3 separate regions of the Homo sapiens genome follow, and regions 1 and 3 are each linked to region 2. Evidence: fine-mapped expression QTL. A gene starts in region 2. Each other region holds a variant in brackets. All regions are shown on one strand. Distances are from middle to middle. Region 1 overlaps LOC107984701 (a long non-coding RNA gene). Region 2 holds the start of NEMF (nuclear export mediator factor). Region 3 overlaps SOS2 (SOS Ras/Rho guanine nucleotide exchange factor 2).

The links. PIP is the estimated chance that this variant, and not a neighbour inherited with it, causes the effect.
Region 1: its variant is the best candidate, but not a certain one, in a credible set for the expression of NEMF in whole blood (TOPMed, PIP 0.81).
Region 3: its variant is the best candidate, but not a certain one, in a credible set for the expression of NEMF in unexposed skin (GTEx, PIP 0.68).

The regions. Positions count from the first base shown.
Region 1 is chr14:49,542,913-49,545,676 of GRCh38, forward strand. It overlaps LOC107984701 (a long non-coding RNA gene), which reads right to left. Exons shown (of 3, transcript XR_007064154.1): 2 at 167-264. Among named protein-coding and RNA genes, the nearest start is that of RPS29, 42 kb to the right of the region's middle. The variant T/C (reference allele first, on the strand shown) is at 1,255.
Region 2 is chr14:49,851,275-49,854,038 of GRCh38, forward strand. NEMF (nuclear export mediator factor) reads right to left here and starts at 1,514. Exons shown (of 33, transcript NM_004713.6): 1 at 1,421-1,514; 2 at 533-601; 3 at 289-391. The coding sequence starts at 1,479. It also overlaps RN7SL3. RefSeq lists an enhancer at 1,521-1,760 and a silencer at 2,564-2,623.
Region 3 is chr14:50,132,342-50,135,105 of GRCh38, forward strand. SOS2 (SOS Ras/Rho guanine nucleotide exchange factor 2) reads right to left here. Exons shown (of 23, transcript NM_006939.4): 19 at 1,782-1,898. Among named protein-coding and RNA genes, the nearest start is that of VCPKMT, 17 kb to the left of the region's middle. The variant C/CA (reference allele first, on the strand shown) is at 1,639.

The DNA of each region.
Region 1 (2,764 bases), 310 kb before region 2:
TGGCGTATCCCTGGACAAAAGGGAGTAGAAAGGAAATAGAAGAAAATAGCATGGCTTCTGGACTTAAATTTTTATAAGGTCAAGAACCTTGTTAAATCCCTAAAGCCTAGCAAGTGTCTAGCACATAGTCATAAAACTGTAAATAATTGTTGGGCACAGTGCTCACCTCTGTAGTAATCCCAGCGCTTTGGGGGGCTGAGGTGGGAGGATCACTTTAGCCCAGGAGTTTGAGACTAGCCCGGGCAACATGGCAAGATCCTGTCTCTACAAAAGAAAAAAAATTGTAATTAGCAGGGCACCATAGTGTGTACCTATGCTCCTGGCTACTAGGGAGGCTGAGGTGGGAGAATCGCTTGAGCCAAGGAGGTTGTGGGTGCAGCAAGCCATGATCATGCCACTGCACTCCAGCTGGGTGACAGAGCAAGACCCTGTCTCAGAAAACTGTAAATAATTATTTAATGTGATTGTTTTAAACATATGTCCATAAATTCTTTGATATGCCTCTCCTTAAAAGGTAGAGTTTAATTTCCCTCTGAGTGTGGACTGAACTTACTGGGTCACATATATTGATTAGAATATGGAAGAAGTGATAGAAATATCACTTCCAAGATTAGGTTGTCCAAAGACTGGGATTTCCACCTGCTGTTCACACTCTCTCTCTCCCTCTTTCTCCTGGATCCCTCACTATGAGGGAAGCCATGTCATAAGCAGTCCTATAAAAAGGCCCACATGGCAATGAGCTAAAGCCTCCTGCCAACAGCCATGAGAGAACTGGGAATGGATCCTGGAGCCCTTCAGATAATAGCAGCCCAATAGCTTAACTGCAACCTCGTGAGAGACGTCAACCCAGTGTCTTGGTTCCCAACCTACAAAAACTATGAGATAATGTTTTTTTTAATTTGTTATAAAATTTGGGGTAATCTGTTACACAGCAATAAATAACTAATAATGTGGAAAGACAATAAAATTCCAGATATCAGTAGTTTGATTAAAGAATAAGGGCAAAATACCAAGACTAGGAATAAGAGGGGTTACACTGGAAATGGAGTTATCTGTGTGAATAAAGGGCGTTGGGAGAAGCAAACTGACGCTTCTCCAAATGTCAGCATGCCAATATAGAAAAAGCAGAAAGAAATATGAACTATAGCAAGCTCAGTGGAAACTGGATTCTTAAATTCATTGAGGTCTCTGTTACTGTGGGGTACACTACCAAGAGAAACTGAGTAACATTAAACAAATGCAAAGTGCTATCAT[T/C]AAGGAGCAAGTGAACAGAAACTTTTTCCCTTGGGGAAAGAGAGCAAAGACAAATCATCAGACCATTAAAAAAGATCAAGAATTAATCTTTACTCTTCTGCAGCTAGAACAAGGAATACCAGATAATACAAACTCTTTGTATTCAGAGTCGCTTTTTCTGGTCACCTGAATATAAATTAATAAAGTGTTTGTATAAATTCAATCTTAACTAGATGAATTTCAATAAACTTTCCATAATTATACATTAATAGATTCCCCAGAAATTTTCCACCATGTTCAACTTTTCCTAGGCAGCTCTTGCAGCTTTTTTCCCGAAGTTTGAATTACTATGTGATGACCCTGTTTGTCCCCCTGGCATTATGATGGGGGTGAAGTCCAGCAGGGCTAAGACTTGAGTTCTGGTCCCAGCTCTATCTAACCAGTCACAGGACCTCAAATAGGACCTTTCCTTTCTGAAACCTACCTCCTTATATGTCAAACAGAGTTGATAATGCCATACTTCACAGCACTGATGTCAGAATAAATAATAGATGAAAAAGCGCTTGGGAAACTGTAAAGTACAGTGCAAATTGGAAAGGTGAATTCCTTTTAGTGGCCATATTTTTCAAAGAAGGCCGCCTCTCAGCTACTGTCCTTTCCTCCGTCATTTTAGATCTTTTATTAATAGGAAATGTTCTCTCCAGTATCCGCTCTCCCTTTGATTATAACAATAACGATATATCTGTGCTTTCACCCACCCGCCCACCTCCTTTCCTCTCCTGTTGTTCACATTATTATTTCTGCCTTCTCAGAGCCTGCTCTCCATTTCCTTTCACTCCCTCTCTGCCTTCCTCCATATGGGAGACATTTCTCCCCAGTAACTGCTTCAGGCCTGCCCTTGAAAAAACCATGGTGGAGTCATTCTGTTATCTCTTTTCAGGAGAAAGAGCTACCTGCCCAGCGAGGGCTTGTGCCACAACTCTAAATGTCAGGTCTGAATTACCTGGGCCAGTGCAGTCCAGGACTGCCTATAGCCCAGGGATACTTACATTCTGACCAACACTTTCTCGCTTTCCTAAGGCACCAAATTCTCCAGTGTTTTAAATTCCAGGAGATCTTATCTCCTACCAAGTTGGCCTACACCGCTTTCCCACAGGGAGGCAGTTGGTGATTAAGAACATAGGCTTCAGGTCAGGCCGAGGCAGGCAGATAACAAGGTCAGGAGTGCAAGATCAGCCTGGCTAATGTGGTGAAACCCCATCACCACTAAAAATACAAAAATTAGCCGGGTGTGGTGGTGCACACCTGTAATCCCAGCTACTCGGGAGGCTGAGGTAGGAGAATCACTTAAACCCGGGAGGCGGAGGTTGCAGTGAGCCAAGATCACACCATTGCACTCCAGCCTGGGCAATAGACTGAGACTCCATCTCAAAAAAAAAGAGAAAGAAAAAGAACATGGGCCTGAGAATAGAATGAGTCACCCTGGGCAAGTGACCTAAACTTTCTGGGCTCCAGTTGTCTCATGAGGATA
Region 2 (2,764 bases):
GCAGAGAAGTGAATTACAGTTAAGGAACTGTAAGGCTGAATGTGATAAAAGCTTGAACTCTAATAGTGACTGTGGAAACAGAAGATCTGGAGCAGAACAGGATGTGAAAGGTAATGGGGAGAAATCAATTAATAAATATTCACTTTATTCAACCCATTATCTGTCAACCACTCCCTTTACCTTCATTTTATCTGCACTTTATTCGTAACAGTGAAGGAAACCCCAATTAAAAACTTAATTGTTAGTGAGCAATCTCTTAAAATTTAGCTTCAAGCGTAACAAGTTTACCTTCATGGCAAAACTAGACGGCATCATATTCTTAGGCCACTCAAATTCTGTTGTATGAATTCGTATGCCAGATTCAAGTAAAAGTGTAGCTTTAAAGTCCGGTCTGTAGAAGAAAAAAGTCGAATTTTTCTTTAGGGTATATGCCAAAGCTAATTGCTAAACAGGCTTAAAATGTAGGTTAAAAAAAATCAGTAATCTCATACTTAATTGTCAAAGAGAAAATAAGCCTATAAAATGTTCTTACTTTTGAAGACGAATAAGGTATGTCTTATTATCCACATCATAAACATTGTTTACTCTCATTCCTAGCAAGCTGCAAAGATAAAGGAAACATGTAACATGTTACACTATTGTCTGAAACATAAAACTACACATAATTTAATAAAAGCTTCGAAAGAGCGGATCTCAGTCTCTAAGGATATGGAGTCAGCCGAGGAGCAGAGTCTGAAAGCCATTTGGAGATTCAGTTCAAAACTTAAGAGTAACGATTTAAAAACAGAAGTGGTCTATCAGCTCTAGGAACAACACACTATAGCTTGCGTCTTCCAAATGACCCAATTTTGGGGGAGAAATACAGTAAAATATAATCCAATTAATTTATTACAAGGGAGAAAAAAAAAAGATAAAAGAGGGCCCCGAAAATATGACAAAGCTCACAGGGCTGAATAATAGAATCCAGACTAGAATCCAGATCTCAGTCCAAATCTGCTCAATCCAGCTAAAACCGCGATGCTCTCTCTCTCTCTGGGGTGAGGGGAGGGAGGTGTTCAAGAAACCAAGCCCCCAGTCTGGAAACCTCTGAAGCAAACGACCACTCTGGCGTCTCGTGTTTTAACAAACGTTTCCTGCCCAACCCGGACAACCCAGGCCAACAATGCAAGAGCTTCGCGCTAGCGGGGCAAGCCAGAGAGCTGGGAGGACGCGGGGGATGGGGCACGAGGTGCCTGGGACCCCCAGGGGTATCCTAAGGGTCACGGGAAAGACACCACACGCCTGCCCACTCAGGCCTAGGCAGGTCCATAGACGCACTAGGAAATAAGGAAACATATCAAGCTGGTCTGTTTGCGCCATGGGACTCCGGCCTCTGCCTCCTGCACTCCCCACACGAGCCTCGTCACTTAGGGTACTGTACCTAGCATTCAGCTCCGCGAGTACGGCGCGGAGGTCAATGGTGCTAAAGCGGCTCTTCATGGCGAGGCCCGAGGGTCACTACCGCAAGTTCCTCTACTGCCCGGCCGGACTCGACGCCACTTCTCCTCCGCGCAGGCGCACTTGGCGGAGCTCTACGGCCGCGCAGAAGACCCAATATTCCTCGAGGCGAACGTATTTGTGTCGCTTTTCTGAAGATTTCGATTGTCAAGTTGCAGCTGACTCTCTTCATTGTACCAAAATTCAAATTCGAATAAAGATTCAAACTGTTCTCTTGAAACTGCATTCCTTCCTGGAACCCTTACGGACCAGTCTGGTTACCGTGCCCCATTGTGTCTTGGGCTCAAGTCAGCCTTCATAGTGACCCCTGCTGGTCGAAACAATTTTCGAGATGATTATCAGGAGTATTTCCCCACAGGGGGGCCGTAGGGCTCAGTGTAGAAGAGCAAGGACCCCTTTCTGCGCGCTTACTTTGACATAAGATTTTGAAATGTAACGAAACGGAACTGCTTCGGTCCTTCTAAGATTATCCTCAACGATCGAGGCGAACTCTCAAAACGGAGTTCCTATTTTGATGGGTCCTGCTCTCGGAAGGAGCATTCTGCAATTGATTACAGGATTCTCATCGAACCTCGGTCTTGGTACCCCTGAGACTCACCGCAGTACCTGGTGTACAATCGGTGCTCCATAAACACTTGGCAGCATGAATGTGCAAGTGTTTAGCTAGATAATGGTGAAATAAGATAAAAATAAAAACAAGAAGATTCCCAATGGGGGTGGGGTGGGAGGGGGGATTCACAGTGTAGTGAGGAAAATAGTCCTGTAAGAATGTAAATTCTGCATTTCTTTTGTCTTAGGATAGATGCATGGGAAGAAAGGCTACTTTATAAGGTGAGAACTCAAAAGAGGCAGGGTCTCACTATGTTGCCCAGGCTGGAGTGCAGTGGCTATTCACAGGCGCAATCCCACTACTGATCAGCACGGGAGTTTTGACCTGCTCCGTTTCCGACCTGGGCCGGTTCACCCCTCCTTAGGCAACCTGGTGGTCCCCCGCTCCCGGGAGGTCACCATATTGATGCCGAACTCAGTGCGGACACCCGATCGGCATAGCGCACTACAGCCCAGAACTCCTGAACTCAAGGGATCCTCCAGCCTCAGCCTCCCGAGTAGCTGGGACTACAGGCACGCGCCACCGCGCCCGGCGCTCGGCGTCGCTGCAAAAGAGCTGCTAGAGGCTTGCAGGCTACACATGGTAGCAACCAGAATTCCTACCACCAGAAGGCGACTCTAAACAGAAAGGGCGCCGCTGCTATTTCAGAACTGGTAC
Region 3 (2,764 bases), 280 kb after region 2:
CTCTATTGCCATTAAAAAAAAAAAAAAAAAAAAAAAAGGCTGGGCATGGTGGCTCACACCTGTAATCCCATCACTTTGGGAGGTCGAGGCAGGTGGATCACTTGAGGTCAGGAGTACAAGACATGCCTGGCCAACATGGTGAAACCTCATCTCTATTAAAAATACAAAAATTAGCCGGGCGTAGTGGCACACACCTGTTATCCCAGTTACGTGGGAGGCTGAGGCAGTAGAATTGCTTGAACCTGGGAGGTGGAGGTTACAGTGAGTTGAGATTGCACCACTGTACTCCAGCCTGGGTGACAGAGCGAGACTCTGTCTCAAAAAAAACAAAACAAAAACAAAAAGAAAGGTCATGGCAACAGTTTTTTAGGACGCTCAAGGCATTTTTCTTGTTGAGTTTGTAGAGGGTCAAAGAACAATAACATCTGCTTACTATGGGACTGTTTTGAGAAAGTTAGCCAAAGCTTTTGCAGAAAAACAACCAGGAAAGCTTCACCAAGGAGACCTTCTCCACCACAACAATGCTCCTGCTCATCCCTCTCATTAAACCAGAGCAATTCTTTGAGAGTTTTGATGGCAGATCATTAGGCATCCACTTACAGTCTTGACTTGGCTCCTTCTGACTTTTTTTGTTTCCTAATTATAAAAAAAAAAATTAAAGGGCAACCATTTTTCTTCAGTTAATAATGTAAAAGAGACTGCAATGATATGGTTAAATTCCCAGGATCTTTAGTTTTTTAGGGATGGACAAAATGGTTGGTATTAGCGCTTACAAAAGTGTCCTGAACTTGAGGAAGCTTATGTTGGGAAATAAAGTTTATGTTTTTATGTTTATCTTTTAATTCCATCAAAAAAATTTATCTTTTCATTCCATTTTTCCATGAACTTTTTTTCTTTTTTCTTTTTTCTTTTTTTTTTTTTTTGAGACGGGGTCTTGCTCTGTCACCCAGGTTGGAGTGAAGTGGAGTGATCTTGGCTCACTGCAACCTCCGCCCCCAGGCGTGCACCACCATGCCTGGCTAATTTTTTTGTATTTTTGGTAGAGACAGGGTTTTGCCATGTTGCCCAAGCTGGTCTCAAACTCTTGAACTGAAGCAATCTGCCTGCCTTGGTCTCCCAATGTGCTGGGATTACAGGTGTGAGCCACCATGCCCGGTCTCTATGAACTTTTTGAAGTCCCCTCATATATCACACAATTGTGAAGATGAGATAGCATGAAACTACCTGACTTCCTGCTTCACCTAAAGTTGGTTTGTGTTTTTACTTCCTTCTATATCTTGCTTCACTTTTAGCTACTTAGAGTTCATCTTCTACTACTTCTGTTGCCACTGCAAACTCCTGCAGTAACTGGAAATTGTAGCATCAAATTCTAGTGACAGAGATGGGTTCCAGAGGCAACTATGGACCATGGAGCCCTAATGGCAGAAGTCATATCAAGTCACAAGAACCAAAATACATTTGCTTACTCCTTCCCAGGTCTTTTCTTTTTTTTTCTGTTCCATTCAGCTACCTATTAAGTTCTCACTTTCTCACACCTTTTTGTATTATTCTAGGAGGGATCAAAAGTAGACACATAAATAAGTAGTACCAAGATAAGGCATAAACCAGATTTTATCAAAAGGCTGACATTTCCCCCCC[C/CA]AGTTTTAGAAATAGTATATTACTGCAAACAAAACACCTAGGAACAGCCATTCAATTACATTTTTAAGATAACAGGTTGTTAAACATTGAAAATAATATTTTAAAAAACAGAACACTTGTTCCCGAAATTATAAAAGACTTACAAATCGAGGTGGCTGTTTGCAGTTTCGAGGTTCAATTTCTAGTGACTTGTTGAACAAATAATCTGTAAACTCTTTTTCAGATGCACTTCCCATGGGGTTAAGGTTTTCAAAGAATCTCTGGAATTAAACAAATAACACAAGTGCATATATAGTAAGTATATATTTTAGATCTTATTAAAATAAGATCTCATTAAAATTTTTTGCTGAAAATTACTTATTTAATGCTAAAAAATAACACATTAAGAGCCCACAATATGTGAAAAGTTCACAAGTGTTGCTTATTCCAATCTCTTTACTTCTGAATAAGATTATATAATTTCTGTGGAAGTTATATTCTAGTCTTAAAGTTCTATTAAGAATATGAGTTTTCATTTATTATCATTTTAATGGCTCAGCAGTAGCACTACTTATTCCTTAGGAAACTTTACTCCTACTCATTGTAACAAATGATCATCACTAGTAAGCTACCAAAAGTGTTTAGAACAAAGCTATGGTTATAATCCACAATGAAGTTTTGATAATCAGAAAAAAAGTGGAGATAAATTAGATTAAGGTCTGTTAATCCAATTTATAGATCATTCTTGATCATTTATAATTACTCTGGAAATTCCTTTTACTTTAAAAGTAGTCATTTAAATTACTTTAAAAGTAATGTCAAGAATGATTATAGGCCGAGCACGGTGGCTCACGCCTGTAATCCCACCACTTTGGGAGGCTGAGGTGGGTGGATCACCTGAGGTCGGGAGTTTGAGACCAGCCTGACCAACATGAAGAAACCCCATCTCTACTAAAAATACAAAATTAGCTGGGCGTGGTGGCGCATGCCTGTAATCCCAGCTACTCAGGAGGCTGAGACAGGAGAATCAATTGAACCTGGCAGGCGGAGGTTGAGGTGAACCGAGATCACACCATTGCACTCCAGCCTGGGCAACAAGAGCGAGACTGTCTCAAAAAAAAAAAAAAAAAAAAAGAAAGAAAGAAAG